7 linked regions of the Homo sapiens genome follow. The protein of the gene in region 5 purifies or fractionates together with the protein of the main gene of each other region. This does not show direct contact. Each region holds a gene or a part of one and is shown on either strand. Other genes may lie near its edges.

Region 1 (3,500 bases), on a different chromosome or scaffold from region 5:
TCTCCAAGAAAAAGGCATTTTCTCATTATTAAAACCTGGCAGCCACTGTATCTATTACCTTCAGAAATGCCACCATTAGTTTGAGGGAACATTCACTTGCAGTAATGTTTTTACTATTCTCAAAGTAGTTGAGCGTAGTCAGGATTCTGACAAACACTAAATAGCAAACACTTAAACAAACAAATTTCATAGCTGCCAATTACAACATTCCTTGTGACTGGAAGCTAAGCTATCTCCAGCAACACAAATATGTTAACCACTTGCTCACCTATGAAATTGTTCCATTCAAAATCGAGATCCCCTTGGTTGGCCAAACAGCCTCTCATGATGTTTGAGCAGTAGTTGTAACATGGCTTCACAGTCACGAGACCCCGGCAGTGGGAGCAGTAGATCATCTTCAACAGGGCATGGGTACACTGGGCTGTGGGGTTTACCTAATGTGTGAAAAGAAAAAAAGACAGTAGTGGCGGGGCTAAAATAGAGACAGAAATTGCTTCTATCACATTGACACTGAAGGCTTGGCCATGAACTTAAGAATGAGTTGTGATTGATCACAATTAGTAAGCCTGGACTGCCTCCTGAAGACATAGATTAGATAAAAGATACATGTTGGGACAGGGGAGAGGAGGGAGATGACCCAAAACAAACAAGGTGCACCAACTCCCACCCTGTAAACACCCATTCCTCCCCCACCCCCTTCCCTCCTGGAGTCTCTCTCTCACACACACATAAATTGCTCAATTATCTCAAAATCCTTTTACAAATAACTATGCAGGGTGAGCCATGAGATGCAGTGGAGGAGACTATCTTCATGTGCCCACCATGCACGTCCTGCTAATAGCCTCAACCATCAGTGTTTGTCTTTGCCAGACTGGAACAGAAGCACATCTTCTTCTGCATTACATTGACTACAAGGCTGTCCTTTGAACCCTAACCCCAAATTAAGGTTTAGAAGGGTACCTACGGTGTCTTCTGTTCTGTGCCAAGAGCTGTGCAGAAGGCAAAGTTAATATATTCTACAAGGCAGAATATGAGTAATCTTAAACTTAGGGGGTGTGTGAAGGTTTTCCAAGGCTTGGGAGTACTAAAGCACAGAGTGTTCACAGAACACTTGATGAAAGAGGTGGGGCTTTGGTTAAATTTTCGAGAAAGGGGCTGGACTTAAGTGGTCAAACAAAGGGAGAGCATCCTGAGTTAAGTTCAATGAAATGAACAAAACCTGTAGGAGAGTACAGGACATGTCACTGCATCTCAGAATGGGGTTGGGGAATTGCGGGAAATAAGGTCAGGTGCACAGGAGTATGCGTGTGGCCAGAATTTAGAGGGGCTTAAACATCAGGCAGAAACTGGGATACCAGTTGCCAGGCACGGTGGCTCACGCCTGTAATCTCAGCATTTTGGGAGGCCGAAGTGGGCGGATCACAAGGTCAGGAGTTCGAGACCAGCCTTGCCAGCATGGTGAAACCCCGTTTCTACTAAAAATACAAAAATTAGCCGGGCATGGTGGTGTGTGCCTGTAGTCCCAGCTACTCAGGAGGCTGAGGCAGAAGAATTGCTTGAACCTGGGAGACGGAGGTTGCAGCGAGCCGAGATCTCACCACTACACTCCAGCCTGTGTGACAGAGTGAGACTCTGTCTCAAAAGAAAGAAAGAAAGGAAGAAAGGAAGAAGGAAAGGAAAGGAAAGGAAGAAAGAAAAAGAAAGAAAGGAAGAAAGGAGAAACAAACAAACAGGGACACCATATGGCAGGACACATGGGGCTATGACTGGAAGTTTGTGAGGAAGGAAAGGAAGAAAGACAGAAACATTACCCAAGTCAGATTGGGCTGGCTGTCCTCTCCAGAGAAATGGGACTTCATTTCATCTAGTTTTATAAAGTGAAATTATTTGGGGTGTAGAAGAGCTGATTCCATCCGGTCACTTGTTTTCCTCAATGCTTAGAAAGGATTGGGGCTAGGTATAGCATTCTAGCAGCTAATTAAAAGTTCCTGTCTCCTCTTTCTCTCTGCCCCACCCTCCTCTTTTGGAGTCAGTATCAGAGGATTAGTGCATTCTTCTGTGTAAGTACCCACCAGTTCTGCTAACACAGACTTTTGGAGGCAGATACCACCACAGGGAAGAGATGCTGGGATGCAGGGCAGCCCGGCAATGCACTTCACCTGCTCTGGAGTGTTACTTTGGATATCACTTATCAGCAGTGCCCTTAGGAACAGGAACAGGGGATTAGTGGTGTCAGGAGAAAAAAAACAGTCAGGCTCCTACGTGATGCATGTGCACATCCATTCCCCTCATCCCAAACAAGGCTCTAGCCTAAAAGGGGGGAATACGTGTAACAATAAAATGGTAATTGTATACACTGCCCTACCAAGAATTAAGATTTTTCCACAGTTTTAACCATTCCCAAATGTTTTCCTAGGCACTAAATTAGTCCTAACTATGTATTAATGTACAGTAAAATTTTGGCTAACCAATATACCCTGGAGGAATGGCCTTTTCTGGATAGCCAGATTTGCTGGACAGCTGAAAGTTCATTCCTTTAAAGTCACAGATTGTTAAGACTTCCCTACATGTCCCCCTCTCCTTTTGTAAAGGAGCAAACAGGACTGGAGGGGGGAGGTGGCCTGAGAAGCATAGGATCACAGAAGTCTTAGAGTTGGAAGGGACCAGAGAGATCACTGAGTGTTGCTCTCACATTTGATAGATAAGAAAAACCAAGCCAAAGCCAAAGAGATTAAGCAACTTGCTGACAGTCACCTCACAACATCGGATTCCAGTACTATACCTTATCAAGCATTTGTGATGAAAAGATTTCCCAGATGTATCACGTTTCCCTGCCAGATGACAGGAAACTGTAATCTTAGGCACTGGTTATTTCCTACTTTAGTTTTAGTTGGGTTCCACATTGATGAGACTGCAAAATGGCTAGATTTTAAAGAGGTAAAAGTTATGCAAGTGGCTATGAAATGAAAAATCACTGAATAGCACGTGGCATTTGTTGAATATTATGCTTAAGAGGAGACAATGCCCTCGTAAGAAGAAACGTAGAAAGCTAAGGGGTCAACAAATAGTTACTGAGCACCTACTATGTGCCAGGGATTATTCTGGAATGCATTTGAATTTAGGTAACAAGGCAAGTTAAGAATTTCTATATTAGAATACAAAACCTGTTCTACAAAATACAAAGCAATTCCAATGTGGTACAGGACTTTAGGAAATGAGCAAAAATTTTAGACCCAAAATAGTTATATTCAGAAAACACTTCTTTTTTCAAAGAAGTCCTTTCTCATTCTTTTAAAAAATAACTCTAGGAAGTGGTTCATTGTATTCTTAGTTCAATTGCAAGTCAAATCATTTATGCAACAGACCTTGTAGTACCCTCCCCTAAAATAGGCTGATGGAGGCTCAAGTTTTAAAAAGAGACCAAACTAAATGACACAGTAGAGTTTTATTAAGGGAAATTATGATGCTGAGTTTGGCAGAGTTCTTCCATTTCATTATTT
Region 2 (3,500 bases), on a different chromosome or scaffold from region 5:
ATCACTTGGGCCCAGGAGGTCAAGGCTGCAATGAGTCATGACTGCACTTCCGCCCAGGTGAGGGAGAGACCCTGCCTCAAAACAAAACAAAACAAAAAAACCAAAAACCCAAAAAGACACAAAAAACACATATTAGCCTAGGCCTACACAGGGTCTGGATCTTCCACCTCCACATCTTGCCCCACTGGAAGGTATTCAGGGGCAACAACACACATGGAGCTGTCATCTCCTGTCACACCAATTGCCTTCTTCTGGATTCCTCCTGAAGAACCTGCCTGAGGCTGCTTTACAGTTGACTTTGTTTCTAGTAAGTAGGCAGAATATGCTCTTAAAAGTATAGCAAATACACAAAGTAGTAACAGTCGTTTATCATCAATTATTACGTACTGTATGGTACTGTACGTAACTGTAGGTGTATACTCTGGTATGACTGGGGCAGTAGGTTTGGTCACACCTACTGCAGCACCACAGACACGAGTAATACACTGCCCTCAACATGGTAGCTCCAACGTCACCAGGTGCCAGGAATTTTTCAGCACCATCATAGTCTTATGGGACCACTATCATATTGTGGTCTGTTGCTGACCAAACTGCATCCGGCAGCACAGGTACAGGCATGCCCAGATGGCCTTGGTAATTTCTGTCAGTGGGATCACAGCAAACACACTCAGTCTGTTGGTCAGGGAGTGTGCAGGAAGCCTGGGGGGCCAGCGGCATCTATTCCCAACTCAGGCATCATGCCAAGACAGTGTCTTCTAAACTCTGAGTAGGAACTGTTCTGGGTCATTTCACAGTCTTTCCTTTCAGAAAACAACAGAGAACTGGGAAACCAGAAGTCCCCGAGCAGGAAAAGCCTCAAAAGAGAGAATCGGCGGGGCACTGTGGCTCATGCTTGTAATCCCAGCACTGTGGGAGGCTGAGGCAGGGGGATCACCAGAGGTCGGGAGTTCGAGACCAGCCTGACCAACATGGAGAAACCCCGTCCCTACTAAAAATACCAAAAAAAATTAGCCAGGCGTGGTGGCGCGTGCCTGTAATCCCAGCTACTCGGGAGGCTGAGGCAGGAGAATCACTTGAGCCAGGGAGGTGGAGGCTGCAGTGAGCTGAGATCGCGCCACTGCACTCCATCCTGGGCAACAAGAGCGAAACTCCATCTCAAAAAACAAAAAAAGAGAGAAAATCACAACAATCAAGCCCAACCCAGAGCCCTTCACTCCCAGTTCCTCTGCTCCCCCAACTCCCATTCAAGTCACAGACTAGAAGACAGATACTGAGCGGCTACAGTCGCAAGCGCCTCAGGGGCAACTAGGACTGAAACTCTAGCACCAGAAGCACAGCAAGGCGGGTGAGGCCTCTCTGAGGGAAGGACCCCCACCACACGGCAACAACCCCTCACAGCCCATTACAAGTTAAACCAACCTAACAGGCAGGCATTCTCCTAAGACTTTCTAAACCATTCTAAGTATGACAGTTTCACACAAAACACGGTAGCCTCCAACTGGCTACTACAAACCATATCTAGATTTTTCTCTTTTAAGTACCCAGGGTTAGGTTGGGCACTAGTGGCTCATGCCTATAATCCTAGCACTTTGGGAGGCTGATGCGTGTGGATTGCTTGAGCCCATGAGTTCAAGACCAGCCTGGGCAACACAGCAATATTTCATGTCTACTAAAAATTTAAAAATTAGCTGGGCGTGGTGGCACATGCCTGTAGTCCTAGCTACTTGGGAGGTTGAGGTGGGAGAATCACCTGAGCCTGGGAAGTCGAGGCTGCAGTGAGCCATGATCACATCATGCACTCCAGCCTGGGCAATGGAGTGAGACCCTGTCTCCAACAAAAAAGGACCCAGAGCTATTGATATGCCCACTATCTTAACTGTGGCCATGGCTCCAAAGGTATGTCTGTGTAAATCAAAAGTTATAAAACCATACTGTATACTCTACATATGGAGCTAAGACACCCACTGACATAAAAATAATCGATTTGTAAAGAAATCCTCCCAAACAACACAAAAGCTCCGACTTTATAAAAATATTTTTGGCTGGGCACAGTGGCTCATACCTGTAATCCTAGCACTTTGGGAGGCCAAAGCAGGAAGATCACTTGAGCCCAGAAGTTCAAGACTAGCCTGAGCAACACAAAGAGACCCTGTGTCTACAACCAACCAATCAATCAATCACCAGGTGTAGTGGTGCATGCCTGTAGTCCCAGCTATTCAGGAGGCTGAGGCAGGAGGATTGCTTAAGCCCAGGAATTTGAGGCTACAGTGAGCTATAATCATGCCCCTGAACTCTAGCTTGGGTAACAGCAGGACCCTGTCTCCAAAATACACACACACACACACACACACACACACACACACACACACACACACACTTTTAAGTGTACTGATGCAACCTCCCTCCCCCTTTATTGGCTAAAATTCAGTACATAATACCATTAAAGTACTAAAATAATAAGAACACACTAGAAAACAAGAAATTCAAAAAATTAGTTAACTTCCTGCCATTACCTCTATCCAAAGGCCCATCACTAAAGTCAAGTCAGTTCTGCCCAGAGGAAGGGCAGATTCTCAGAAGGCAACCAAGAGACAAGAAACAGAAGCAGGGTCGGAGCGCGGGGCAGCGCTGCCGAGGCTCCACCTGTACAAGGTTTCTTGGTCTCTAAGCTGCTTGATTCGCCAAGTGCAGTAGGAGGGAGGGGGATGAAGGAACATTCTAAGAAGTTCTAAGACACCTCAGAAAAGGGCAGACTAGTTTTATTCCTTCACAGAGAAGAGGTGAAGCCTGGTTTTACTTTAAAGTAAACATGCCCAGTAGCTGAGGGCTACTTGGAGTGGCGGAGGAAGGAATGTGAATCACAGCACACGAAATGGAGCACTCAGAGCATCTGCTTTGTGCTGCCCCATGAGGCCTGCTCACCAAAGTGAGGAGCTCACAGAGGTGCAGCCCCTCATCCAAGCCAACGGCCTGGAGGTAGGAAAGTGAGGCAGGGGAAGTCTGATTCCCGAGTTGGACTCTTAGACATAAACAGATACCGCTTCTCTTGGGAGTTTTGCTGCAACAGCAGCACAGAGGAGAGAGAGCAGCTCCCAGTAGATTTTAACCAGGGCAACTGTATCCCCCAAAAAACATCCACCAAGACAGTTTTGCTTGCTACAACTGGGGATGGGGAGAAGGAGTTGCTAATGGCATCTAGTGGGTGGGAAGCCAGGGAGGCTGCTAAACATCCAACAATGCACAGGACAGCCCCCAAAACAGAATGTTCCCGTGCAAAATGTCCACAGTGCCAAGGCAGAGAAAGCCTGAATTACCTAAGAAAACAGGGCAGCTATGACTCACTGGGCCCTGCTGTATCAGGTACTGTCTCAGCGCTTTATGTGCACCATCTGATGTCATCCTCCCAACAATTCTACAAACAGTTACTACTCTCTCTCTTCTACAGAAAAGGAAATTGAGGCAAGAGAAGGCAAGCCATGGACACAGGCCAGTCAGTGGTG
Region 3 (3,500 bases), on a different chromosome or scaffold from region 5:
CTATATACAACAAATAAAACCAAGATGTGCTTATATACAAATTTCACCAAAATGTGTACACATCTGTCCTTAAGCTCCCAAGTCCAAAAGCTTTTGATTTTATTTTCTGTTTTCTATTTTACAGTGGTAACAAATGGAAGACTAGCAGAAAGAGAACAGTGTTTCTCTATGAAAATTCTGCATGAGGGAAAAAAAAAAGTGTGGCCTGGAATCACCCATAGTGAGCAGAGACCTGCAGCTTCATCTTTGAGACAGTCTTGCTCTGTCGCCCAGGCTGGAGCAAAGTGGCCCAATCATGGCTTACTGTAGCCTCGACCTTTTGGGCTCAAGCGAACCTCCCACCTCAGTCCCCACAGGAGCTGGGATTGCAGGCATGCGCCACCACGCCTGGATAATTTTTCTATTTTTTTGTAGGAAGGGGGTTTCGCCATGCTGCCCAGGCTGCTATCGATTTCCTGGACTCAAGCGATCCACCCGCCTCGGTCTCCCAAAGTATTGGATTACAGGCATGAGCCACCATGCCTGGCCTCTCATATTTTTCTTAATTTTCCTAGTTGACTTTTACTCCTATATGTCAGTACAAAAATGAGTTTCTTATAGTTTGTCAGTGGCCTTTTACCACTTTAAGGCATGTGCCACCTACCTATGTAGTTTTTTAAGCACTCTATAAAGTTTTGGAAATATGAAGTTTATCAAACTAGTGAAAGCATGGGGGAAGCATATTCAATTTCGCCTCTGTAATAAATTTCTTGGTGTAGAATTGCTGGGTTACAGCTGGGCGCGGTGGCTCACACCTATAATCCCAGCACTTTGAGAGGCCAAGGTGGGAGGATCACTCGAGGTCAGGAGTTCAAGACCTGCCTGGCCAACATGGTGAAACCCACCTCCATATACTAAAAATACAAAAATTAGCCAGGGTGGTGGCATGAGCCTGTAATCCCAGCTACTCAGGAGGCTGAAAGAGGAGAATTGCTTGAACTCGGGAGGCAGAGGTTGCAGTGAGCCAAGATCGCGCCACTGCACTCCAGCCTGGGTGACGGAGCGAGACTCCATCTCAAAAAATAAAAAAAAAAAAAAAGAAAAAAGAAAGAAAAAAAAGGAATTGCTGGATCACAGGATATGTATTTTATTTTTTTTTGAGAGAGAGTCTTGCTCTGTTGCCCAGGCTAGAGTACAGTGGTGCAATCTTGGCTCACTGCAACCTCCACCTCCTGGGTTGTTCAAGTGATTCTCTTGCCTCAGCCTCCTGAGTAGCTGGGACTACAGGCGTGAGCTATCATGCCCACCTAATTTTTTTTGTAGTTTTAGTAGAGACGGGGGTTTCACCACGTTGGCCAGGATGGTCTCGAACTCCTGACCTCAGACGATCCACCCACCTCAGCCTCCCAAAGTGCTGGGATTACAGGCATGAGCCACTGCGCCCAGCCAGGATATGTATTTTTTTATTTTTTTTGAGACGGAGTCTCACGCTGTTGGCCAGGCTAGAGTACACTGGCGCGATCTCGGCTTGCTGCAACCTCCGCCTCCCAGGTTCAAGTGATTCTCCTGCCTCAGCCTCCCGAATAGCTGGGATTACAGGCACGTGCCACCATGCCCGGCTAATTTTTGTATTTTTTAGTAGAGACGAGGTTTCACTATGTTGGTCAGGCTGGTCTCAAACTCCTGACCTCAGGTGATCCGCCCACTTCAGCCTCCGAAAGTGCTGGGATTTCAGGCGTGAGCCACCGCACCTGGCCCAGGATATGTATTTCAAAGACTTCTAAAATTCTACCCACTTGTTCCTATTAGTCTACCAGTTTATATTACTACTAGCAGCACAAGTGCCCCATTTCTTAGACCTTCCCTGATACTAGGGACTGTGCTTGATCATGTTTTAAAATTTTTGCTAATTTGATAATGGAAAAAAAAAACAAACTCATGGTGGCTTTGTTGTGCCAATCTTATTTCCAGTGAGGTAATCACATACCCGACACCTGATTTTCTTCTTTACTGAATTTTCTGAGTTTGCCTATTTTCCTGCTATTTTTTGATCTCTAAGTATTTGCTCTCTAATAGTCAAATATTTTCCCTAGTTTCTCTTTTGATTTGGTTTATGGTATTTAACACTTGGAACAACTTAATTTGTGTATGTAGACATGATCGACTTTTTCTTCATGATTTCTGTATCTGCTTTTATGCTGAAGGCCTTTCCTATTATGAGATAGACAAATACTCACTTTTCTTCTTTTACTTTTTAAATGTCTCTCTTTAATCCACCTGGAATTTATTTTTGTGTAAGACAGAAGAGTGAGATAGTTTTAAATCCTAGATCCTACAGTGGCTAGTCTGGCCAGGCCTACATTATGGTTAATATAGTACAATTGACATACCAACTATCCACTAATATAGTCCAGCCCTGGGCTGGAATATGAGAGACTTTGATCACTACTCCATATACAAAACAAGAAGCAATCCTCATCCCACATCTCCTTAAAAATCACATGCTGTCTGAAGGCTCCTCCAGACCCACTGGCATCTGCTTTCCTCTTTATTAGTTACTGTATTACTGCACTAACATTCTTACAAGAATCAACTGGCTCAAGCCAAGGGATCGTCTGTTGCTGTGGAAACATGCAGAAAGGACATGTAGGGCCTTGACTTACTACAACAACTAAACTAAGCAACACGATGCTTCAGAAGGAAACTTTCTAGGGCCTTTCAGGAACTCCAGACAGAAAAAGGGCCAGTTTTCAAAAGTGAAAGACTGTCCCAAACCCACTTTCAACTTTCCACATTCCAGAAACATTTGAAGTCAAGCAGACCTACGTTTGAAGCTGCACTTGAGCCATTTATTACCTTGCTACCTTAGTGACACTGCTCAACTTCCACACCGATCCATTCTCATCTGAAATATGACACTACCACTTAACCTGTGGAGCTACTGCTGGGATCTGAAAGTGTACCTGGTATACAGCAAATGTGCAGTACAATTAACTATCATGCATGAGATTTCCCTAAACTTCCCTCCACCACTGCTACCAATAAAATTACTTCTCCAGAAAGCTTCCCTTTAATTCACCCATGTCTCTTTCTTCTCCTACAAGAAATAACTTGTCACCGGGTGCGGTGGTTCACACCTGTAATTCCAGCACTTTGGGAGGCCAAGGCGGGTGGCTCACCTGAGGTCAGGAGTTTCAGACCAGTCTGGCCAACATGGTGAAACCCCGTCTCTACTAAAAATACAAAAAGTTAGCTGGGCACGGTGGTGGGCGCCTGTAATCCCAGCTACTCGGGAGGCTGAGGCAGGATAACTGCTTGAACCCAGGAGGCGGAGGTTGCAGTGAACCGAGATCGCACCACTGCACTCCAGCCTGGGTGACAGAGCGACTGTCTCAAAAACAACAAAACACCATAATAGTGCCTTACTGCTGTACTCTCTCTGTGGCTTGTCTCTCCTGTTCTCTTCCCCGACTCAGCCCTCATGATTGAGAGCTTTTCAACAGCTCCACTTGTGCTGCCTC
Region 4 (3,312 bases), on a different chromosome or scaffold from region 5:
TGTGAACTTTGTGTCTCTAAATATCAGTCTCTTCTTCTCCGTTGCCACTGCCTCAAGTCAAGCCCCTTTGATATTATTCACCTTGACCCATGCATTTAGTTCTTAATTGGTCTGCCTGTCTCATGTCTGTCTGTGACTATCACCAAAATATCATTATCTTCCTCTTTACTTCTGGAATGGATCATTGAGAACAGTGCCCAACAAATAGATATTAAGTTCTTAAATATTTATTGAATGATTAAAGATAAGGCTAATGTTTTTACTCCCTTGCTTAAAATCCTCCGGTGGTTCCCTAGTCTTATTTAGATGTCTCCCCCTTTGCTGCTCCCTTAGCTCCATGTACATACACTGGACTATAAATGCTAGTTTGCTAATCTGTCATCTGTCATCACACAATAGACTGTAAGTTGCTTGGCAAAGATGATGTCTATTCATCATTAAATCCCTAGTATGTAACACACAGAGGTTTAGTAAATGTTGAAAAAAATCCTAGGGAGTCCGTGTTAATCTAGAAAACATCTTCAAGCTTCAGAACAAACTTGGAATTCATAATACTGATACTGTCATGGATTGATAGAAACAAGTGCTTCTTGAAGGCAGGGTTCCAAAACACCATGAGAAATTGTGCCCTCACTTAATGGTACATTTTCTGGTGGTACAAATTAACAATAAAAGTTATAATTTATTTTTAATGTATTTGTAGTGTGAACTGAATGTTACTGAGGATGCTTTGAAAGCTATAGCCAGATTGGCACTAGAACGAAAAACAGGTGCACGAGGCCTTCGGTCCATAATGGTGAGTTGGCATTATTCTATAAAAACAATTATTTCTTGGTCTGAGTTTTGAGTATATTAAGCTTCCCTGTTTTTCTTTTGGAAAATATGTATATATATTTTGAGACAGAGTCTCAAATAAAGGAGTGCAGTGGTGCGATCTTGGCTCACTGCAATCTCCACCTCCCAGGCTGAGGCTCAAGCAGTCTTCCCACCTTAGCCTCCCAAGTAGCTGGAACTATAGGCAAGAACCACCACACCTGGCTAATTTTTGTATTTTTAGTGGAGATGGGGTTTCACCATGTTGGCCAGTCTGGTCTCAAACTCCTAACCTCAGGTGATCTGCCTGCCTCAGCCTCCCAAAGTGCTGGGATTACAGGCGTGAGCCACCACGCCTGGCCTGAATTTTTTTTTTTTTTTAGTCACAGTAGATTATATTTTGCTTTTTCTCAAAAAGGAACTTCAAGGTGTTTGCAACAAAGGACATAGACATAATATGATTAATGACACAGAAAATCGGGATCGGGCCTGGTAACTCACACCTATAAATCCCAACACTTTGGAAGGCCAAGGCAGGAGGATTGCTTGAGCCCAGGAGTTTGAGACCAGCCTGGGCAACATACACCCTCATCTCTCAAAACAAACAAACAAACAAACAAACAAAAAAAAAGAGGCTGGGCATGGTGGCTCATGCCCATAATCCTAGCACTTTGGGAGGCTGAGGCAGGCGGATTGCCTGAGCTCAGGAGTTCAAGACCAGCCTGGACAACATGGCGAAACCCCATCTCTACTAAAAATACAAAAAATTGGCCAGATTTGGTGGCTTACGCCTGTAATCACAGCTATAATCCCAAATATATATATATATATGTTTATATATATAATCCCATATATATGTTTATATATATATATATATTTGTTTTGTTTGTTTCTTTTTCCTTGAGTGAATGGATTCCAATTTGTGATTTATAGAATAAAAGCACTTGTATGTAATCTGTTTTCAATGTGATTCATTACTTTTTATTTCTTTAGGAAAAGCTGTTACTAGAACCAATGTTTGAAGTCCCTAATTCTGATATCGTATGTGTGGAGGTTGACAAAGAAGTAGTAGAAGGAAAAAAGGAACCAGGATACATCCGGTAAAGTGTATTTTCAAGCCAGAACAGATACAAAATTTAAGATGAGCTCCTCATTGCTATGTTTATTGGTTTGTCATTTTAAAATTACATAAAAATTATTATATTTCTAAGGGAAGCAATAATCTCAAGTTTTCTGTAGAAAAATCTAATTTGGGTATTATAAAATAATAGTATTTTGTGAGTCTTTGAAAGTTGATCATCAGGCCGGGTGTGGTGGCTCACACCTGTAATCCCAGCACTTCAGGAGGCCGAGGTGGGCGGATCACGAGGTCAAGAGATAGAGACCATCCTGGCCAACATGGTGAAACTCTGTCTCTACTAAAAATACAAAAATTAGCTGGGCGTGGTGGTGTGCGTCTGTAGTCCCAGCTACTCGGGAGGCTGAGGCAGGAGAATCACTTGAACCTAGGAGGCGGAGGTTGCAATGAGCCAAGATCGCACCACTGCACTCCAGCCTGGGCGACAAAGTGAGACTCAGTCTCAAAAAATATATAAAAAAAGGCAATGGGGCTGGATTTGGCTAGCAAGCTACAGTTTCCTAACCCCTGATTTATTCAATAAATGTTTACTATGCAATGCTTGACATTAATGTTACCTACACAAAAGCTAGGTTTCTGTTTAACTCAAATCATAAGGTATGTTATGTTTTATGTTTGCTTGTGTTCCAAGATAACTTTAGAGGCAGTTGATGTGTTTTGAACAACCTTAGTTATCCAGAGAGATATAATCTTTTATTTTTATTGTTTAATGACATTGACGTATGGCTTTTAAAGGAATTGTGGTGACCTGAATTATCATTTTTACTAGTTCGAGACAAGACGGATGTGATCAGAAATAGCTTCTTTACCATATACATATGCTAAGTTCCAGCATTTGAGTTGAAATAACAGATGATACTTTCTTGGAGAAGAGGATTTTTTAAGCCTTCACAATTGAAGCCATATTGTCCTTTTTTTTTTTTTTTTTTTTTTTTCTCCCAGTAATAAATTTGTCAGGGAAAATGCTGGGAAGTTTATTTGCAACTCTTGGTTGTATAGTCTGTTTCCCATATTACTAAGCAATCTTTTTTTTTTTTTTTTTTTTTTGAGACTCAGTCTTGCTCTGTCGCCCAGACTGGAGTGCAGTGGTATGATTTCGGCTTACTGCAACCTCCACTTCCTGGGTTCAAGCGATTCCCTTGCCTCAGCCTCCTGAGTAGCTGGGACTACAGGTGTGTGCCACCACACCCGGCTAATTTTTGTATTTTTAGTAGAGATGGGGTTTCAACATGTTGGCCAGGCAGGTCTCGAACTCCTGACCTCAAGTGATCAGCCCTCCTCGGCCTTCCAAAATGCTGGGATTACAGATGTGAGCCACTGTGTCCGGCCTAAGCCGTCTTAATATTAAAAGTGCTCCTAAT
Region 5 (3,500 bases):
TGGGAGGTGAAGGTTGCAGTGAGCTGAGACCACGCCATTGTAATCCAGCCTGGGTGACAGAGCAAGACTCCATCTCAAAACAAACAAACAAACAAACAAAAAACCAAATTTTGTTTTTTTTAAGAGACAGGGTCCTGCTCTGTCGCCCAGGCTGGAGTGCAGTGGCACCATCAGAGCTTACTGTAGCCCTGAACTCCTGGGACAAGTGATCCTCCTGCCTCAGCCTCCTGTGTAGCTGAAACCACAGGCACACACCATCATGTCTGACCAATTTTTTTTTTCAATTTCTTGTACAGACAGGGTCTTGCTATGTTGCCCAGGCTAGTCTTAAATGAACTCCTGGCCTCAAGTAATCCTCTCGCCTCAGCTTCTCAAAGTGCTAGGATTACAGGCACGTGCCACCATGCCCGTCTACTTTTTAAATTATTTTTTTCAGAGACAGGGTCTCCCTGTGTTGTCCAGGCTGGTCTCAAACTCCTGGCCTCAAGTGATTGAATATTCTTTTCTGGAGAATTTTCTAGGGAAAGAGAAAACCTGGAAGATTGAGGAGGAGTCAGAAGGGCTGCAGATGGAAATCCTACAGAAGCCAGCATCAGCCAAGCTACAGGGATGGCAAGTGGGGCCCGTCCCAGGGGAAGTACCACTCCTTGTTGTGGGGAGGGCTGCTGCCTGCACCTGCTAGTATTGCTACCTCTTCTGATTTTTCAAGAGAAGCTAGAAGGCAGAATTTTAGTATGAAATCTCGTAATTTTTAAGTGCTGGTAACTATTCTGGAATTTGTGTAAACACCATGCAGGTTAGTGGAGTGCATCTATGAGCTGTGCTTTGTTGGGGTCCTGCCACTCTCTACCTCTGCTGAACACTTGTCGGAAGAGACAACTCTTTGTTTTGCCTATGGCAAAAACAATCCAAACAACTCAACCCCAGGCCCTGGCCCTTGCCAATCCCACGTAGGCTGGTCAGGGCAGTGCCTTCTGCATTCCAGACAGACAGATGTGGGTGCTAACAGAGGCCAGTTGTTATGTGAAGCTGGGCTCCCCAGCGTGAGGCCTGGAGGTGGCAACAGTGTCTCTGCAGGAATGTGATCAATGCTGACAGCCTGGAGCAGCTTTAGAAGTTTCAGATGCCTGAGACGATAGCATGGCGGGCAACAGGGCACTCAAGGAAGGCCAGAGAAGGACAAGGAGAAGGCGGCTAAGGAGGCCAGGCTGTGTCTCGACGGATCTGGTAGCTGTCATGCCTGTAGCATGTTTACTTCAATAGCCACAGATGTGTCCCCAACCCATGCAGCCAGGTCACCTCACCGTTTTCCTAACAGCCAAGCAGCATGTCCTTTCAATTCATAGAAGCCCTGAGTAAGAAACATAATCCCATAAAAGCACGCAAGCTGATTGCAATTGGAATCTCAAGACTTTCCCCTGCTAGCTGTGACCTTGGGCAAGTTCATCAGTGTGCACCAAGGTCCCTCTACAGTTGTTAGTTTGAATCTCTGTGTGAAATGGAGTCCTGCCACACGGAGGTAATGCCTAGCGGGTCACGTGGAAAGGGGAGAGTGGAAGGGGTCCGACAAGGTCACAGGTGTGGACAGTGCCTGGTATGGAGCGGGCATGCAGTACACTGTGACTATTGCACTGGGCAGAAATATCTTAGGAGTATATGAGGGAGTAACCATTCAGCTTTCCAAAAAGATGTCTGTGTTTCAGAAAGGGGGAGAAAGACGTGGACTAGGATCACAGGCTGTTCCTCCAGCGGGAGGCATCCAAGGGCCACCCTCACCCAAGGCAACTGTGATAGATGTGGGTGGAGCAGGCACACCTGGGCTTCCTTCTCCAGCTTTGTCATGTTTAAAAACATCTGTGCGATCTCCCGGTCAAACACTCTTACTCGGTCCCAGTCCAAAAGGAGAGATCTGTCTTTGTCAGTGTTAACCTGCAGGAAAAAGGATAAAGGGTGAACGCACAAGAAAAAGTCTCCAGGTGAGCCCAACGCCAGGAAGAACCAGGACAGATGAAGCTGGTCCTTGTCTGGGAGCCAAATAGCCCTGGCTGTAATGGCTCACAGCTGTACCTGTTCAGGTGGGCAGATACGCAAGCTGACATCTGGCCCTCTCCACCACTTGCCCCAAAACCAGGCAGCCAGTCTCAGGAAGGTGGCCCAAAGCTGAGGCTGATGTGTCCCTAAGAAGCACCTGAGCCCCTACTTCTCACACCACCCCTGCCTATCCCCAGTGCCTGGCCAGTGGTAGGTATGGCCACCGCCAGGGTCCCAAGCCCCGTGTCAGCCACAGCAGCTCCAAGACAGTGTCTCACTGTGTTGCTAGGCTGGAGTGCAGTGGCACGATCGTAGCTCACTGTAGCCTTGGACTCCTGGCCTCAAGCAATCCTCTTGCCTCAGCCTCCCAGGTTGTTGGGATTACAGACATCAGTCACTGTGCCTAGCTGTATTAAGTCTTACAGTGAGCTTCTGTGGAGGCTTTTATTTGAAGAAAGGGTTCTAGGAATTTTAAAAAGTTTGAAAGCCAATGGTCTCAGTCCAGTGCTTGGACCTGACCACTGAAGCCACTGATTCCTGTGGGGTGACCTCACCCTGCACTGCCAGAGCTGAACTCATTCCCACTTATCCAGATTCAGCATATACAGGCCCAGTCTCTTCCCACTGCCCCCATGAAGGCTGGGGTCCCTCAGCCCTAGGCACCACAGACCACTTCCAGGTACAGCCGTCCACACTTCTGCCCTCAGCCCGGGGCCTGCCGGCTGATGATGATGGAAGACTCTCAGAATCCATGCCCCAAACCCAGAAAGCCCCAGCATGAATAGAGAAAGGCAAGGAACCTTGGCCTGCAGCACCCAGTAGGTCTCTGGTTTGAAGGACTGGATTTTATCATGTCTCTCCACACAGAATCCCAGGGTTGGAGTCTGACACGGCCCAAAGGAGATGAGAGAGCTGTCTAAATCACCGTATTTCCCCTGGAAATATTTAGTCTGAAACCTGGAGGGAGTGGAAAGATATTTTGGTCACTGATTCACTCAAGACACTATTATGGCCACCCATGTGAGTCCAGCCCAAGGCCAGGGGTGGTGCATGAAGGAGGTGGCATCAGGTGGTGTCCCCACTTAGAAGCCAGTGGGAGCAGAGTGGGCATAGCCTTAGGGAGGATTCATGTGTGTACATGGGTGACAGAGCCAGTGAGAGAGGAGACAGAGGTTTCTACTGTCTCAGGCCAGGGAGCCTTCTATTCTATTCCATCTACTGCACACTCTCCTCAGGACCCCCAGAGCACAGACAAACACACTTTATCAAGCAGGGCATATGTGATCTCTGTCAGCTAAATAAACAATTTTCTTTAGGTCTCTTTTGTTTTTGTAGAGACAGGGTCTTGCTGTATTGCCCAGCAGGAGTGCATTAATGGGGATTCACAGATCATTGCAGCCTTGAACTCCTGGGCTCAAGTGATCCTCCCACCTCAGCCTCCCAAGTAACTGGGACTACAGGCTCACACC
Region 6 (3,500 bases), on a different chromosome or scaffold from region 5:
ATGCTATTCAGTAAAATATCAAAAAAATTATAACCAGTAAGTTCTATTCTGCAACTACCTGTGTGGTCTTTGCAAAGTCACTTTTCCACAATGTTATTTATGTCAATCATGTGTGTGATTTCACCCTGAACTGCATCAACTTTTTTAGCCAATGTTTGTGTTTGAGGGTGTGTTTGAAGGTGTCAGATATCCTTCAGTCTTCTCTCCCACTCTTCTCCTCACTTCTCCTAATCACAATATTCTAATCCCCTCCCCAATTGCTGTAACTCAAGTTGCTTCTGCCATATCTAAAATATCATCCCCACCTACTCTCCATCTACTAAAACATTCATCTTTCAAGGTTTGGGCTAAGAAAAATCAGTCTACTGCAGTAGAAACTACCCCACTAGTGCTTTAGTCATCTCATGAATGTATACATTATTCCAACTAATCATTTTAGCATTTAAAACAAGTCTCAGATTTTCTTGTTGCTCAGGAATTTATTTGGGAAAGATCCCATGTACCCACAATAAGAAAAAGATGTGTGGTTCCAATTCCGATATCGACTTTCTAATATAATTCCAAATAAGATTAACAATTTACTGCAACCTTGAATCTTATTAATTAAAAATGGAGGAAGTTTAGAATTAAGTCATCTCTAAATCAAGTGGTTTAACATGGGATCTGGACAATATCAAAATTGATCAATAAAAGCCAGAGGGAGAAATGAGGCCTGTTTCTACTGTTAATGTTGAATGTTACATTTCAGGACATGTCAATTACCTTGTACAACAATCTGATTTAGAGCCTGTGATCATTTACACTACAGAGATTTTGAAATGACTGAAGGCTTAGATAATTATTTAAGACCTGCTTCAGAAAAGTCATGATCACTTAGTAATCCCCCACTACCTTACGCAGAATGTCACTTCTAAGGTAGAAACTAGTGGAACAGAAAAAAAGTCGTAATTCGGTCATATTTGACAAATATGGGTATTTTGAAGGAACAAAAGTTGTATACTCATGTAATTCAAAGTTTTATTTTAACATGAAAAATAATTTTTACTCATTCATTCATCAAACACATCCACTAAACTACTATATGCCAAGCAATATGTCAGGCACTGGAAATATGAAATGAATAAAGCAGATGCTACTGTCGAATTACTTTCATCTGTTGTTGGATGTAACACTTAGGTAAAAATTTTAGGAGCAAAGTACTAATTTTTAAACAATAGATCCACTTTTATAAGCCCCACTTTCACCTTACATAGCTGGACTTCTCCCTCTAAACAACTAACACTACCATTTTTATGAAGAGAAATTCCGCACTTACTATCTCTCAAATCTTATCTAGGCAAAATATTTGTCCCTCCTCTAAGAGTGCCTTTACTATTAGACTAAGCCAAGGACAGAATATTTATTCATCTTTATGCACAGTACTTGAACCACAGTAGACAGTCAATCAATGCTTCTGGGATTGAAGGCTCAAAACTTGATGCAATATATAGGTAATATAAGTGAATGTTGGTGCTTGAATAAAAGAGAAACTTTATTTTAATTCAGCATCTTAGTTTTAATGTAATTATAAAAGTCACCAAAAATTGACAGAACACTAGAAAACAAGTAATTGCTAAATCAAAATAGAATATCGTATACTTTTAATCTTTCATTTTTTTTCTTTCAGGTTTTTCAGTTGCCTTCTTTCCTAGATCACGTATTTCTATCGTTGTTCCTTTTTTATTGTTCCTGTGACCACTGGAGCACTAGTAATAAATCCTTAACTCAAATAGGTTATATTTAATTTCAGCACCCAAGCTCCAAATGCATCAGCTAAACTGGGTTATAGCATGGAGAATACCTCAGACGACCACAGATTTTATTTTTGTTAAGATTCTATCAAGACTGAGGCAAATTATAATAAAAGTTCTCATATCATAGAAAACAAATTACGTGGAAAAGGATAAACATTTATACAGTACTGAAGCGTTATCAACAATGAGTAGCAGAAATTCTTTTTCACTGAAGTCCAAAAGCCATCCCAGCCCTCCAGCAGATCTAAAGATTCTTGCTAAAGGTCAATTCAGGATATAGACCTAATACAAGAACAAGGTATTTACTGTCAAGATTTGCTATGAAAGTTCCACGTAACTTGTAACAACTCTGTCCTTGGCCAACTATATATACAAGGTGCTGTTACAATGAAATATATTTTAAGGCACAGTATTCCAAACTGAGTAGAACATTTTGCTCCCAGAGTCTGCACAGATTTTGGATTATTTATACCAGCTAATAGAATTAGTACCAATTAACCCGAGTTGGAAATCTGGGTGGTAACAGACTTCAGAGGGCTATCCAAGGTACTCATGCCTGGTGACTATGAACTACGAAAGATCAGAAAGAATGGGTCACAGGAATCAAGGTTGAGCTGGTAAGAAAAGGGGGAAAAGACTGGACTTCAGTATTGACAGATTAGCCCAGAATGAAGAGGAACAAAAACATCCTTTACTATGGTACAAATAAGCTTTATAACACAAATAATCTTCTCAATAATTTTATAAACATTCTAGTATCATCTTTAGGGTTATCTGAAAGAAGTTTCTATAGATATATTCTCTAGTACTTTTCTGTAGAAATTAAAAATAAAGATCATAATTGGCCTATTATCCCTGTATTTCATATTATTTCTAAAAATATTCCTAGAAATATCTGCAAGAATAGTTATTTTAATCTTTTAAGTAGCTGTGAAAACAAACCAAAAAATTGTATTGGGGGGTCTGAATAACCACTTTATCTCCTATAGAAAAGAAGATAGGTAAGAAGAGGATGAGTACTTATAGTAGGTGCCATGAATTAATGTCTAAGGGTGAAGATGTGAAATTTGCTCACTTTTTGAAAAGCAGGCATCAAGTTAGATAATGATCATTGATTTTATTTGTCCATTACTATTTCCCACTTGATCAAAGCACTGCCTATTAAAAAGGATAAATCAGATAATACCTTTACTACCACTAATGAATCAATAGAAAAGGCTAGGTTTTGCAGTCAGAATCTACTACACTGCTAATATTGCTATTAATAAGCTACATTATATTCTAACAACTCAAAGAAATTGCAGGATAATCCAGTATAATGCCTTTACCTTATATATAAATTGAATCAAGGTCCAGAGAGTTCAAATAATTTGTCCAAAATAATACAAATATATTTTCCAAGTTTTAACAAAAAACAAAGTTCGAGGAGCTATATCATCAATTATCAGAATCAGAATTAAAAATTAAATCACTGGCTTCAGTTAGTGCTTTTGCTACCATGCTCACGTTGCTTGATATCTAATCAATGTTACAGACTATTTAGTTCACCTTGGCCAACCTCTACATATTTCCAGCTGAAGTTGCTTTAAGTTGAAAAAACGGTATACAATCACAGAGGAGAGATATAAAGAAACAAGAATGCTGCTACCATCCTATTAGGGTTCACTCCTCTAAAAGTAGAGCAAAGGGATATCAGAACATACACAA
Region 7 (4,111 bases), on a different chromosome or scaffold from region 5:
GGATGACAGGGCAAGACTCCATCTCAGAGAAAAAAAAAAAAAAGAATAAATAAACTCTGAGATTTATTTAAGTTATAACACTTCCCAATATTTTTAGATATTTTAATATATAAAAATGAAACTACACAGAGGTTAGTAAACTCTTCTTAAAACTGGTATTTTACATGTCAAAAATGGAGTCTCAACTATCAACAGAAAGTTAAAATGGGTTTTTTTCAATGTTTGGATGTTTGCATTTGTTCAAGCCTCACATGGTCAAAGTCTTTAAAACTTTCTAAAGAAAGCTACATTTTGGAACCCAGATACAGCCCAGTTGTCTAAACAATGGGCTACATGATACACCACAGACTCCAGGCAAAGTCACAACAGGATGAGAACAGAGCCTTCAGCCTCTCTCAGATTTCCTGGCCACTGTTATTTTAAAACTTGACCACGTAAACATAAACAGGGAAAAATCCATTTCAGATAATCCCTACTGGTTATGATTTACGATCTTTTGTTTTTAATGCAATATTTAATTGCATTAATTTACATTAAATATTGTAATTGTTCATAACATTTTTCTTGCTCATGTTTCTAGGCACTAACCAAGAATATATATGTATATCATATATAGTTTTATATATTATACAGTTTTTAATCATGATCTTTCCTTAAATGTCATTCATACTTCTGTTACATTTACAATGGTTTCTGAAAACAAAAATGTAACTTACAAAGATGAGAGAATGATAAACAGCATGTCACACAAAAAATACAAAAATAATGGGCAAATGTACATAAGACTAAAATGACTTCTGTTTACCAAAGTGGATGCAATTCCTGCGTAACGTAAAATACTCAAAATGAGCTGTATATATAAAAGTCTGTGAGCTATTTTGAACGGCAGCATGGTTTCAAGCTCTGGCTATAGCCCACTTTGTAACATTTGTGGCGGTTTCTACAATTAAGGAAAAAAGGCACAAAGGTAATTTTTTCACTAAACATTCTCCAGTTTGAAAACCACAACCCAAGACATCTAGGAAGTTCAGTTAATTTGTACAGAAATGCTGTTTTGCCGCCAACCTTTGTACCATGACCACTACCAGTCCAAGTTCAAGATTCACGTTTTATGGTGTGAAGATAAGTTTCAGCTAAATCTTAAGAATGTTAATTTTCAGGCCAGGCGCGGGGGCTCAAGCCTGTAATCCTAGCACTTTGGGAGGCCGAGGCGAGTGGATCACCTGAGGTCAGGAGTTCGAGACCAGCCTGGCCAACATGGCGAATCCCCGTCTCTGCTAAAAATACAAAAATTAGCTGGGCAGTGGCGCGCCCTTACTGTAGTCCCAGCCACTCGGGCGGCTGAGGGAGGTCAATCGTTCGAACCTGGGAGGTGGAGGTTGCAGTGAGCTGACAGAGCGAGGCTCTGTCTCAAAAAAAAAAAAGTTAATTTTTAAAACTCTCAAGTTCTGACTTTATTTAGATAGACTGCATCTATACCACCAGAGCATTAAAAAAAAAAAAAAAATGAGGCTTATTTAGCCCGTACAGTTAAGTCTATTAAGTTAGGGCAGTGCTCCTCATTTCTCACTAATACTTGTAAATCAGGATTTAAGCATCCCTCCACCACATCACTTTATGCCAGGTAAGATGTAAAGAATATTTGGCCAGGCGCAGTGGCTCACGCCTGTAATCCCAGCACTTTGGGAGACCGAGGCGGATGGATCAAGAGGTCAGGATTTCAAGACCTGCCTGGCCAAGATGGTGAAACCCCGTCTCTACTAAAAATACAAAAAAATTAGCCAGGCGTGGTGGTGGGCGCTTGTAATCCCAGCTACTCGGGAGGCTGTGGCAGAGAATTGCTTGAACCCGCGAGGGGGAGGGTGCAGTGAGAGGAAATCGCACCACCGCACTCCAGCCTGGGCGACAGACCAAGGCTCCGTCTCAAAAAAAAAAAAAAAAGGTAATGAATTTTTTAAACTGTATGGAAATACTTTTAAACACGGATGTTCTAGCAATAACCCCATCAAATTGTGTCCTACTTAAAATTAAAATCCCAGAGTTTAAGCATTTTAATCGTTTTAGGGAGTTTTTGGAAATTAACAAAAAAAGTTCTTGTTCAGTAGCATATCCGTAAATTAACATACTCAAGGTACTGGACCACCTGGAGACTAAGAATAAGGCTTTAGAAAGTCTCGATCTGGTCTCCTACATGATTAGACTATTAATGGTATCATTTGATCTTCACATCTCAGAGCAAACTGCGCTCCCCCTGCACTGAATTTTAAGCGTGTTTACAAAAGAGAAAATAAAACTATCACGGAGTGTCCAAGTCCGAGTTAGGCACCTGAGTGCTCTGCTTCTACCTGGGAGCCAGGGAAGAAACACAAAGGGACCTTGGTGATGAGAACCCATGAAAGGAGACTGATTGTCTTTCGGTGGAAACGAGAACCACCGCCGGCCCCACTGCTGCCCAGGGCCCACCCATCCATCACCTGCTTCTCCCACCCGCGTCCTCGGGCAGTGAACAGAAGCGTCGGCCCCGGAGCTGCTCGAGGAGGCCCGGGAGCAAGGCCGGGCCAGGGAACGCGAGACCCCGGCGCCGACGCCCCGCAGTGGGTCTCTGGGACACTCACCGGTGCGGGAGCGAAGGCAGGTGCGCGGCGGCGGGGCTACCTGTACGGGTGAAGCTGGAGGGCGCGGTGAGAAGTGATGAGGGCCAGTGAAGAGGGCGACGACGCGGACGGGCACCAGGACAGGGCGGCGACAGCGGCCGGGCTGAGGCTGGCTTCCTGCTCGGACAGATCCCGAGTCGGTCTCCGCCCGCCGGCCGGCGCCCCGCCGAGTCCCCGGCACTGCGGCGTGCACGTCACGGCTACGGAGCGCCCGAAGGGGCGGGGGCGCCGGGGCCGCGGCAGGCCGTCGGGCGCGCGCTCCGGGAGGGAGGGCGCGCTCCGGGAGAGGGCGCGCGACCCCCGGGGTCGCCCCGCCCGCGGCGCAGAGCCTCTGGGGCGAGGGTAGGCGCCCTGCAGCGCAGAGAGGGGCTGCCCCTGGACAAGCCGGGAGTTCTTGTTCTTCCCATGGCGAAACGGCCTCTTTTGCCGCGGTAGTTGTTTCCAGTCCCGGCAAAGCAGGTCCTGTCCGGCTGGATACTGTGACTGTGCAGTCTACCAACAGCGAGAATCAGTTCAAGCAGGGAGAAAGTTGTTCGGAGAAGGGGCGAGGAGTCCGGGGCTCCGCGCGGGGGACCCAGGAACCAGGTGTCCGCGCTTGGGCGGCAGCGAGGCTGCGTGGCGGTTGCGGCAAGAACCACTGCTCACTCGGCCCCGGATCGGGCCGGCTTGGACTGGGCTGCCCTGCATAGGGGGGAACCTTCCCGCACAACTAAGTTGCCATTCGGTCTTTGGAGGAGGGGGCTTGGGATGGGAATTTCGCACCCCTTTGCCTCTTCCCGCTCCTACCCTCGCCGACGCATTTACTTTATTTAGAGCCCCTACCTTCTCAGTCGTTTAAATGTTACTGTTTTTATTAGTGACATACCTGTGAGTCACCTTTTAAAATATGAAGTACCTATGCAAATTTGAATTATATGGTAAAAACACATCACCTTTACAATGAAAACAGCTTCTTTTAAGGCAACGAAATAACAATTGACTATAATGCTAAATGTATCCGCTGAAAAAAGCCTACTTGCACATGAGAATTACACGTTTTTCTGCAACATTTATATGTAGCGACTTGGAAACTTCTGGAAATCTAGAAGATTCTGACGAGGAGACAAATTTCTGATACTTAAAGACTCCATGGTTCTGTGGGTGGAGAAATAAAAACTCTAAGTTCTGATAAGATGTTTTAGAATTCAACTAAAACAATAAAATATTAAGAGTAAAATAGGGAAGTAAGAAAGAGGAAGAGAAACAAAGAAAGGAAATAATTTACAGCAATCTCAGAAATTTAATTCCAAATTGCCAGAAGGTAAGTCTTAAGTATATAAAACTAAATTTCAAAACAAACTGAAAAAAAGAGGGAGAAGATGAAGATGGCTGTCTCAGTTCACACTGCTCTGACTCAATTTTGGATTTAATACTAAACTTCATTTGGCAAACCAATAGAAGTCAATACATTTTTTTAA

What was found.
Region 1: the proteins of TOP3B (region 5) and GPC4 purify together in Homo sapiens (affinity purification with mass spectrometry, with the first as the bait; one large-scale study listed by BioGRID). This does not show direct contact.
Region 2: the proteins of TOP3B (region 5) and YTHDF1 purify together in Homo sapiens (affinity purification with mass spectrometry, with the first as the bait; one large-scale study listed by BioGRID). This does not show direct contact.
Region 3: the proteins of TOP3B (region 5) and CLTA purify together in Homo sapiens (affinity purification with mass spectrometry, with the first as the bait; one large-scale study listed by BioGRID). This does not show direct contact.
Region 4: the proteins of TOP3B (region 5) and CLPX purify together in Homo sapiens (affinity purification with mass spectrometry, with the first as the bait; one large-scale study listed by BioGRID). This does not show direct contact.
Region 6: the proteins of TOP3B (region 5) and ACTR3 purify together in Homo sapiens (affinity purification with mass spectrometry, with the first as the bait; one large-scale study listed by BioGRID). This does not show direct contact.
Region 7: the proteins of TOP3B (region 5) and MYO6 purify together in Homo sapiens (affinity purification with mass spectrometry, with the first as the bait; one large-scale study listed by BioGRID). This does not show direct contact.

Annotation. Positions count from the first base shown.
Region 1 is NC_000023.11:133,310,990-133,314,489, forward strand, and holds part of GPC4 (glypican-4 precursor), read right to left. Parts: intron 435-3,500; coding exon 269-434; intron 1-268. UniProt on the Homo sapiens protein: Cell surface proteoglycan that bears heparan sulfate. May be involved in the development of kidney tubules and of the central nervous system.
Region 2 is NC_000020.11:63,209,632-63,213,131, forward strand, and holds part of YTHDF1 (YTH domain-containing family protein 1), read right to left. Parts: intron 1-3,500.
Region 3 is NC_000009.12:36,193,921-36,197,420, reverse strand, and holds part of CLTA (clathrin light chain A), read right to left. Parts: intron 1-3,500. UniProt on the Homo sapiens protein: Clathrin is the major protein of the polyhedral coat of coated pits and vesicles.
Region 4 is NC_000015.10:65,151,031-65,154,342, reverse strand, and holds part of CLPX (ATP-dependent clpX-like chaperone, mitochondrial precursor), read left to right. Parts: intron 1-703; coding exon 704-796; intron 797-1,806; coding exon 1,807-1,913; intron 1,914-3,312. UniProt on the Homo sapiens protein: ATP-dependent chaperone that functions as an unfoldase.
Region 5 is NC_000022.11:21,965,788-21,969,287, forward strand, and holds part of TOP3B (DNA topoisomerase 3-beta-1), read right to left. Parts: intron 2,989-3,500; coding exon 2,832-2,988; intron 1,930-2,831; coding exon 1,816-1,929; intron 1-1,815. UniProt on the Homo sapiens protein: Releases the supercoiling and torsional tension of DNA introduced during the DNA replication and transcription by transiently cleaving and rejoining one strand of the DNA duplex.
Region 6 is NC_000002.12:113,959,589-113,963,088, reverse strand, and holds the end of ACTR3 (actin-related protein 3), read right to left. Parts: 3' UTR 493-3,500; downstream 1-492. UniProt on the Homo sapiens protein: ATP-binding component of the Arp2/3 complex, a multiprotein complex that mediates actin polymerization upon stimulation by nucleation-promoting factor (NPF).
Region 7 is NC_000006.12:75,747,928-75,752,038, reverse strand, and holds the start of MYO6 (unconventional myosin-VI), read right to left. Parts: upstream 2,801-4,111; 5' UTR 2,616-2,800; intron 1-2,615. UniProt on the Homo sapiens protein: Myosins are actin-based motor molecules with ATPase activity. Unconventional myosins serve in intracellular movements. Myosin 6 is a reverse-direction motor protein that moves towards the minus-end of actin filaments.